Regions from separate parts of the Homo sapiens genome. Here region 1 is reported to be linked to region 2. Evidence: microRNA targets listed by miRTarBase, many of them from high-throughput screens and not tested one by one. Region 2 holds a microRNA gene; the other region holds the end of a gene's coding sequence. Distances are between the middles of the regions.
Evidence for each region. The annotated mature microRNA hsa-miR-6510-3p reads CACCGACUCUGUCUCCUGCAG and lies in region 2 at 1,888-1,908, shown strand. An mRNA with a match to its seed (bases 2 to 7 or 8) in the 3' UTR can be bound and repressed. Matches are read on the target gene's strand: a 7mer-m8 pairs with bases 2 to 8, a 7mer-A1 pairs with bases 2 to 7 and ends in A, and an 8mer does both.

Region 1: miRTarBase lists TACO1 as a target of hsa-miR-6510-3p. The part of its 3' UTR that is shown has no 7-base or 8-base seed match.

Annotation. Positions count from the first base shown.
Region 1 is chr17:63,607,556-63,611,879 of GRCh38, forward strand. TACO1 (translational activator of cytochrome c oxidase I) reads left to right here. Exons shown (of 5, transcript NM_016360.4): 5 at 247-810. The coding sequence ends at 447. It also overlaps the pseudogene FAM136DP. Among named protein-coding and RNA genes, the nearest start is that of TACO1, 8.8 kb to the left of the region's middle. RefSeq lists enhancers at 3,051-3,551, 3,552-4,052.
Region 2 is chr17:41,514,690-41,519,073 of GRCh38, reverse strand. MIR6510 (microRNA 6510) reads left to right here and starts at 1,857; the gene lies at 1,857-1,910. KRT15 (keratin 15) reads left to right here and starts at 184. Exons shown (of 8, transcript NM_002275.4): 1 at 184-744; 2 at 1,909-1,991; 3 at 2,110-2,266; 4 at 2,809-2,970; 5 at 3,064-3,189; 6 at 3,382-3,602. The coding sequence starts at 247. RefSeq lists an enhancer at 1,549-2,433.

The DNA of each region.
Region 1 (4,324 bases), 22 Mb from region 2:
CCAGGGTATAGGTGAGACAGTTCACATATTGTACAAACATTTATTAAGTGAATACTGAATAGGACCGACTCTAGTGAGGACTATGAGAAAGAAAGAGTCAAAACATTGAAAACGATGTCCCTGCCAGTGAAGAGCTCAAACCCAGTGATCCATTCCAGTACTGACATTCAGGACTTTGCAAGGTCCTGTGTGGCTTTGTCTCATTACCTCCTGGCTCCTCACCTCCTGACTTTCCTTTATCCCTAGTTTATTTGTGATGCCTCTTCACTGCACCAAGTGAGGAAGAAGCTGGACTCCCTGGGCCTGTGTTCTGTGTCCTGTGCACTAGAGTTCATCCCCAACTCAAAGGTGCAGCTGGCTGAGCCCGACCTGGAACAGGCCGCACATCTCATTCAGGCTCTCAGCAACCACGAGGATGTGATTCACGTCTATGATAACATTGAATAACCAGGCTACATGTGCCCCCGGGTTCCTTCCTAGAAATGTGGCAGCCCATTCCAGCACACAGGCTTCTGCAGCAATCTCTGAGGGTAAAGCCGGTGGGAGGCTCAGCAGGCCAGGAGGCCCAAGGACAGGACTTGCGACCTTGAAGCCAAAGGAATCTCACTTGTGGGGCCTCCTTGTCAGCTCTGCTGCTGTCTCAGAGCCATCTGGATGAGTGTCCCGACACCCTCTCGGATGCAGGGCAGGACCACCCAGCTGGTCAGACTCTGATGTTGGGTAGCTGGCCTCTGTGGGGATTGTAAGTGCCCTGAGGCGCTCTGTACTAGAAACTGCTCTTAATAATAACGGTGATTATTGGTTGCTGCATTGCTGTTGTATGGCTCTTGAGTCTTCCTGAGTTTGTGTCCAGCTGTTGGGATCCTCTGGACTAACTTTCAAGTCCCTAGGCTTAGCTCTACTACTCCAATCCCAGGATTATTTTTTTAATTGGCCATAGAAATGTAGTTGTATCCAGGCACTCCATGGTCTGATGCTGGTCTTACAGCCTAAACCTGTCATTCATTCATGCAACTAATATTTCTGGAACACTAGCTATATACCAAGAACTGTACTTATCTAGAGCATAAGCTATTCAACTGGTGTCCTGTGTTAGATCCTGCTCTAGAAGGTAGGACCTGAACACAGGACTGCTCTTTACTGGAGCTGTCCCAGGGCAGTGTGAGCTGCTGTGCAAGCATCTGTTGCTCTCTTTGTGTGACTTCTGTGCCCTTCTTTCACCAAACAGCTTAAGGTTCTAGCCCAGTAGGAAATCAAGTGCCAGTGATAAGGGACTTGGCAGTGGCTCACACCTATAATCCCATCTACTCGAGAGGCTGAGGCGGGAGGATCACTTGAGCCCAGGAGTCTAAGGCTACAGTGAGCTATGATTGCACCATTGCATTCCAGCTTGGGTGACAGAGTGAGAACTCTTCTTTTTTTTTTTTTTTTTTTTTTTTTTGAGGCAGAGTCTCACTCTGTTGCCCAGGCTGGAGAGCAGTGGCACAATCTCAGCTCATTGCAGCCTTGACCTCCTGGACTCAAGCAGTCCTTCCACCTCAGCCTCCCAAGTAGCTAGAACTACAGGTGCATGCCACCACGCCCAGCTAATTTATATATATTTTTGTAGAGATGGGGTTTCACTATGTTGTCCAGGTTGGTGTCGAGCTCCTGAGCTCAAGTGGTCTGCACACTCGGCCTCCCAAAGTGCTGGGATTACAGGCATGAGCCACCACGCCCGGCTGAGTCTGTCTCTTTTTTTTTTGAGACAGAGTCTTGCTCTGTGGCCCAGGCTGGAGTGCAGTAGCATGATCTTGGCTCACTGCAACCTCCACCTCCCAGGTTCAAGTGATTCTCCTCCTTCAGCCTCCCAAGTAGCTGGGATTACAAGCAGGCACCACCATGCCCGGCTAATTTTTTTGTGGAGGGGGAGGGGAGAAAATTAAACTTTATTTATTTTTAAAAGCAAACCACCGGGAAAATATAACACAGCCTGGAAGCAGCAAATGGACAGGCTATATTATCATTTCAAGTAGTAAGTTGATGAAAATACAATGAGGTTGCTATCAAAACAATAACGTGCCATGCCGGGGCAGGAACACTGCAAGTTGCGAAAGCCCCAGGCAAAAATGGTTTTTGGTACTGGGGTCTGCCTCTCCTTTGCTATAAGGGAGTCAGCTCATCCTAGCCCAAGTTGCTTACTTTTTCTTCCTTGGATTTCCTGTTGCCAGGGTTTGTCTCAATTGTGCTTTGTTAATTCAGGGGGCTAAGTAGGCAGTGCTAGGTTTAGGCTTTCATTCCATCCGTTCTATAAAAACCAGGTTTTTCCAAATCCAGTACTTCATAACTCTGTTATAATCAAGTAGCCAACTGCTCTTCTTTTACTGTTCATTTCTAGATACTAGTATATATCACAATCAAAACCCCCTTCTCTTCACCGGGAAAGTGTTACTGCAAGATTGTCCTGTCATTTTGCTACACACAGCCTCGGCCCATCAGCCAGTAATTATGCTTCCCATAATTAGTATGTCATCACCTCTCATGTTTTTGCATGGTCTCCAGGCTGAAAGATGCAGCATGTAATAATTTTAAGAAATCTACATCTACATCTTGATGACCAGAAATGGGGATCCTCAAGGAAACTTTCAAAGTTCTTATCCAAACTAGTCTCCCTCCCAATTCCACATCTTAAAATCAATTTGTATCGCCTTGTATAAATTACACAAAACCAAGAAAACAAAGACCCAGAAAACTTTTTTGCCCTTCTAAGCGGGTGACCTCATGGATTTTGTTTCACAGCTTACGGAAAATGGTGTGGTGACACTTCTGGTAAACAGGATGTTGGCAACAAAGAGAAAATATCTCTCCTCAAACTCCACCAACTCTAACCTGCCAGCCTGTTGGTACCTGTGTAATAAGAAGAGTTTAGTGCCTTGGAGGGCTCTGGCTTGTTACAGGGGAGATCCTTACTGGCAGGACAAGCACTGGCCATAGGATATATAAGCTCTAAAACTCTCCTGTAATATCTCTGACCCAATTTAGCACCACTTTTTTCCATTTCATTTTTTAGGACTGAAACATAAAAGAACCAGTGTCCAGAGGCAAGTGACATATGTCTTACACTTGTGGCCATCCTTCATTTCTTCATAAACTTTGCTTAAAAGACTAAAATTCCCAATTCCTTATAAAAAATATATTCTTGCCCTCAGCCCCAGTGGCCACTGGCAAAGACTGTTATTTCCCAATGGATAAGAGAGCCTCCTTCATCTTCTTGGCCATAGTTGGGATGAGGTGCGTGTGGTCATCCACACACTTGGTCACACAACCGTCCAGCTGCTGCTTCACCTGAAGCTCCTTACTCCCAGTATCCATTGAATCTTTGGCTTTGTTGTTGCAATGCATGGCGCACCGGGCCAGGTGGTGCCGGAACTTCTCCAACTCACTGGTGAGCAAAGCCCGGGCTTGAGCCAGAGGCACATGGCAGTGCTTTGATGTACTGGTGCACCTACTGCATGGAGGCCTGGCTGTCCTCACAACAGCTGGTGCTGCACCGGAACATGAGACCCTGCATCTTCCAGATGTTCTCTCTCTCCAGACTCTTCACCATGGAGTCCACCACCTCCTGCACCCACAGCTGCTGCAGCTCTGCCATGGCGTCCCCATACCGCCCTGCACCGTGCCACCCCGGCTAATTTTTGTATCTTTAGTAGAGACCAGGTTTGGCCATGTTGGCCAGGCTGGTCTCGAACTCCTGACCTTAGGTGATCCGTCCATCTTGGCCTCCCAAAGTGCTGGGATTACAGGCATGAGCCATGGCGCCCAGCCTCTGTCTTTCAAAAAAAAAAAAAGGGACTTACTAGGGCCTGCTTTGCCTGGGTCCCTATGCATCCTGGGATTGGTCAGAGTGAACCAATGAGAAGACTGAGCTGCTCTCAAGAAGGGCTACCACAAGCTGGTTTTGAAAGCTTCTTGGTTCTGAGAACAACCAGCCCTAGATCCTTTTCATCTCTGATGCCAAATGATGTGGCACTGAGAACTGAAGAGGAAACGTGAACAGAAAGAAGAGTGAGGGCTGAATAAGAAGCCTCGCCAGTGGGAAATAGGGCCCTTGGTACCTTTTGCTCCTAATAGTCACATCTGTGTTTAGAAGGGCCAGGAACTCCCACCTCCTGCGTCAGAGCCTGTCAAGCATGTCAGGCCTAGAGTGGCTTTCTGATCCCTGTTATACACCTATTTATAAGTTATCTAAGCTAATTCTGAGCTCAGAGTAATTTTCCTGAAGGAGCTTCAGGTAAATAAGGATGACAAAGAACTAAAACCAAATTTACTGTAAATGATAACTTCA
Region 2 (4,384 bases):
AATCATCTCTTTTGTTGCATTAAAAAAAAATAGAAGAGAAAAACTTCACATGACCCACTCAAGGTGTGCAGGCAGCTGTGTTTGTCAGGAAGGCAGAAGGAGTTGGCTTTGCTTTAGGGGAGGAGACGAGGTCCCACAACACCCTCTGAAGGGTATATAAGGAGCCCCAGCGTGCAGCCTGGCCTGGTACCTCCTGCCAGCATCTCTTGGGTTTGCTGAGAACTCACGGGCTCCAGCTACCTGGCCATGACCACCACATTTCTGCAAACTTCTTCCTCCACCTTTGGGGGTGGCTCAACCCGAGGGGGTTCCCTCCTGGCTGGGGGAGGTGGCTTTGGTGGGGGGAGTCTCTCTGGGGGAGGTGGAAGCCGAAGTATCTCAGCTTCTTCTGCTAGGTTTGTCTCTTCAGGGTCAGGAGGAGGATATGGGGGTGGCATGAGGGTCTGTGGCTTTGGTGGAGGGGCTGGTAGTGTTTTCGGTGGAGGCTTTGGAGGGGGCGTTGGTGGGGGTTTTGGTGGTGGCTTTGGTGGTGGCGATGGTGGTCTCCTCTCTGGCAATGAGAAAATTACCATGCAGAACCTCAATGACCGCCTGGCCTCCTACCTGGACAAGGTACGTGCCCTGGAGGAGGCCAATGCTGACCTGGAGGTGAAGATCCATGACTGGTACCAGAAGCAGACCCCAACCAGCCCAGAATGCGACTACAGCCAATACTTCAAGACCATTGAAGAGCTCCGGGACAAGGTGAGTCCTCGGATGTCAAAGAGAGGGGAGCAGGTGGCTGGTACCCTGTACACAGCTCTAATGTCAGTGTTACTGCTGACTCAAGGAAATCCTTTCCTGCCCAGGCAATGACTGTCTGGTATGTAATCTCAGCAAATTTGGAATGCACCTGCTGTCCAGGTGCAGAGGCCAGTGCACATCTTCTCAACTTGGTGGTGCTGGGGGAGGGAGAGAGGGGTCTTGGGAATCTGGTTAGGACCAACAGGGGCACAGGTGGGGGCAATTATAAAGAGCCAGAGGCAGTAGCTCACACCTGTAATCCCAGTGCTTTGGGGGGCCAAGGTGATAGGATTGCTCGTGTCCAGGATTTAGAGGCTGCAGTGAGCTATGACTGTGCCACTGCACTCCGGCCTAGGTGACAGAGTGGAACCTGTATCTAATTAAATAAAAATAATTAAAAAAAAAGAGCAACTCGCCCTCCCTACCTCATGCACCCTGCAGGCTTCTGCATAAAGTATTCCTTTACCTCTTTTGCAAGAATGGGATTGGAGTGTGGCCTCATGAGTTCCAGATGCTAGAACCTCTTGTCTTTTCCTATAAAGAGGTCTTTTGTGCCAAAAGTACTGTTGGGTCTTAGGAGACCTGGGAACTCATTACACATTCTGCCACCCACTCACTCACCATTTTACTCCCTAAGACTGGGTTCCTCATTCGTAAAATGCCTTCTTAACTGCCCTCCAGGTTGCTACTGGCTGGAATGTTCTGTAGATCCATGGCTGTGTCCAAGGTGTGCAGGAGGCAGTGACCATGAGTTGTCCACAGTGGGGCTGGTGGAGTGTCTCTGAGAGAGCTATTGTCAGAGCTGGCTGCACCCCACTGCCCCACTCTCCTGGGCAACCAATTCCCACAGGCAATACTGCCTCCTTGGTCTTTCGTGCCCTGGAGATAAGGAAGGCAGCTCCTCAGGTGTCTCAAGGAGGCTGGATGGGACAAAACAAGAAATGGACACTGAAAGTGAGGCTGGACTTTGCCCACCCCAGAAGCCGTACAGATTTTTGTTGGTGGTGTCAGAGGGGTGATTGTCAGTGAGGGGTGATTTTCAATGAGGGGCTGGCCTTGGGTGCAGAGCAGAGAGCAGCAGGGGAGAGAGAGGAGTCCTCTAGACACCGACTCTGTCTCCTGCAGATCATGGCCACCACCATCGACAACTCCCGGGTCATCCTGGAGATCGACAATGCCAGGCTGGCTGCGGACGACTTCAGGCTCAAGTGCGCTCCCCCGTCTCTCTCCTCTTCCTGCATTGCCCACTTTACTTGGCCTTCTCCTGGCTCTGACTCAGGCAGCCAAGACCCCTCCCACTTCCTTCTTTGGCCTCCCTCTCCTCAGGTATGAGAATGAGCTGGCCCTGCGCCAGGGCGTTGAGGCTGACATCAACGGCTTGCGCCGAGTCCTGGATGAGCTGACCCTGGCCAGGACTGACCTGGAGATGCAGATCGAGGGCCTGAATGAGGAGCTAGCCTACCTGAAGAAGAACCACGAAGAGGTGAGAGCTGGCCCCCATCACCCCTGAACCCGAGAGAGGTGGGGAACCTCTTCCCAAAACTCACTTAAATTGCCCAGAGGGAAAGACAGTGGCTCCAGGAAGCCCTCCCAGATTTTCACGAGATTAAGTCAGTGGGAGGCAGAGTGGGGCTGTTGGTACTTCCTCATAGTTGGCCTGGGGCTTAGTGGTTCAGAAACACACCTACCCCACAAAACCAGGTGTCCTCATGGAGAGGAAGGGGCAGTGTCTGGTAGCCCAGGCCCACAGCCAGCCCAGGTGGCCCGTATGAATGGTTGACTTCCTGATTGGCTTTGTGAGCTCACATCAGGGCCCTACAGTCTCGGGGTCCTCCCTTGGTAGGACCTAGAGCAGCAGAGAACTCCTTAGAGCTGAGGGGTCCATGTGACCAAACCTCTTCATGTGCAATGGGGAACAGCGGTTGGGGTGTGTTACGGGCAGAGCCAGGATTGGCATGTGTGACGCCAGACTCTCAGGTCTCTCTTCTGCTCTCCGTCTCTAAGTGGGTCCCTCCCATCCTGCAGGAGATGAAGGAGTTCAGCAGCCAGCTGGCCGGCCAGGTCAATGTGGAGATGGACGCAGCACCGGGTGTGGACCTGACCCGTGTGCTGGCAGAGATGAGGGAGCAGTACGAGGCCATGGCGGAGAAGAACCGCCGGGATGTCGAGGCCTGGTTCTTCAGCAAGGTGGGCCTTATATCCTGCCCTGCCCTTCCTGCCCCAGGTCCCTGAGTCTCCGAGGAGGCCCCGGGGCTCACTTCTGTTGTGCATGACCTACAGACTGAGGAGCTGAACAAAGAGGTGGCCTCCAACACAGAAATGATCCAGACCAGCAAGACGGAGATCACAGACCTGAGACGCACGATGCAGGAGCTGGAGATCGAGCTGCAGTCCCAGCTCAGCATGGTACGGCCACTCGCGCCCCATCCCAGCCTCTCGGGTGGTAGAAGCTCCCACTCTTCCTGGCTATTTAAGCCTTGGAGTTCTCAAGCCCCCTCAAGAGGTGGTTCCCTGAACTCCATTCAGTGCCCCCTCCCTGCTTGCCCTCAGTGGCTTCCTTTCTAGCCTGATGTGTCTATGCATCTGTCACTCCCCCAGAAAGCTGGGCTGGAGAACTCACTGGCCGAGACAGAGTGCCGCTATGCCACGCAGCTGCAGCAGATCCAGGGGCTCATTGGTGGCCTGGAGGCCCAGCTGAGTGAGCTCCGATGCGAGATGGAGGCTCAGAACCAGGAGTACAAGATGCTGCTTGACATAAAGACACGGCTGGAGCAGGAGATCGCTACTTACCGCAGCCTGCTCGAGGGCCAGGATGCCAAGTAGGCGCCTGGGCACAGGGGAAGGAGTGATGAGGGCTGCTTGTGGCTAGGGTGCAGGGTCATCCTAAGGGAATGGCAGGGTGTCCCTAAGCAGCCTTGAGGGACTGTGAAAAGAGAACTGAGCAAGGAGGGAGGATCTGGACTCCTCACTCTGGTCCTTGGCTGTTACCTGGGACAGGTCACTTCCTCTCTCTGGATCCGTGTTTCTTCTGTAAATGATAGAGGCTGGGCTAGTGGTAGTTAAGATCTAGTGCTCATTCCATTCTCTGCATGAGATAGATGGGTATTCTTGTAGTTCAGAATCTTGACCAGCTCAGTGGCTCATGCCTGTAATCCCAGCACTTTGGGAGTCCAAGGCGGGTGGATCACTTGAGGTCAGGAGTTCGAGACCAGCATGGCCAATATGGTGAAACCCCGTCTCTACTAAAAATACAAAAATTAGCTGGGCGTGGTGGCGGGTGCCTGTAATCCCAGCTACTCGGGAGGCTGAGGCACAAGAATCACTTGAACCCGGGAGGCGGAGGTTTCAGTGGGCTGAGATCGTGCCACTGCACTCCAGCCTGGGCGACAGAGTGAGATTCCGTCTCAAAAAACAAAACAAAACAAAACAAAATCTGTCTACTTGGGGATAGCAGGCCTGGATGGGCTAGCAGGATGTCCCACCCCTAGAGGAGTCAGATGTGTGGGTGGTGGTGGTGTAGGGTCTGAAGAACACTGCATAGCTATCTACATGAGCTTCCCTTACGGACACTTGAGCTTGTGCCCTTTGCTTAAATCAGCTT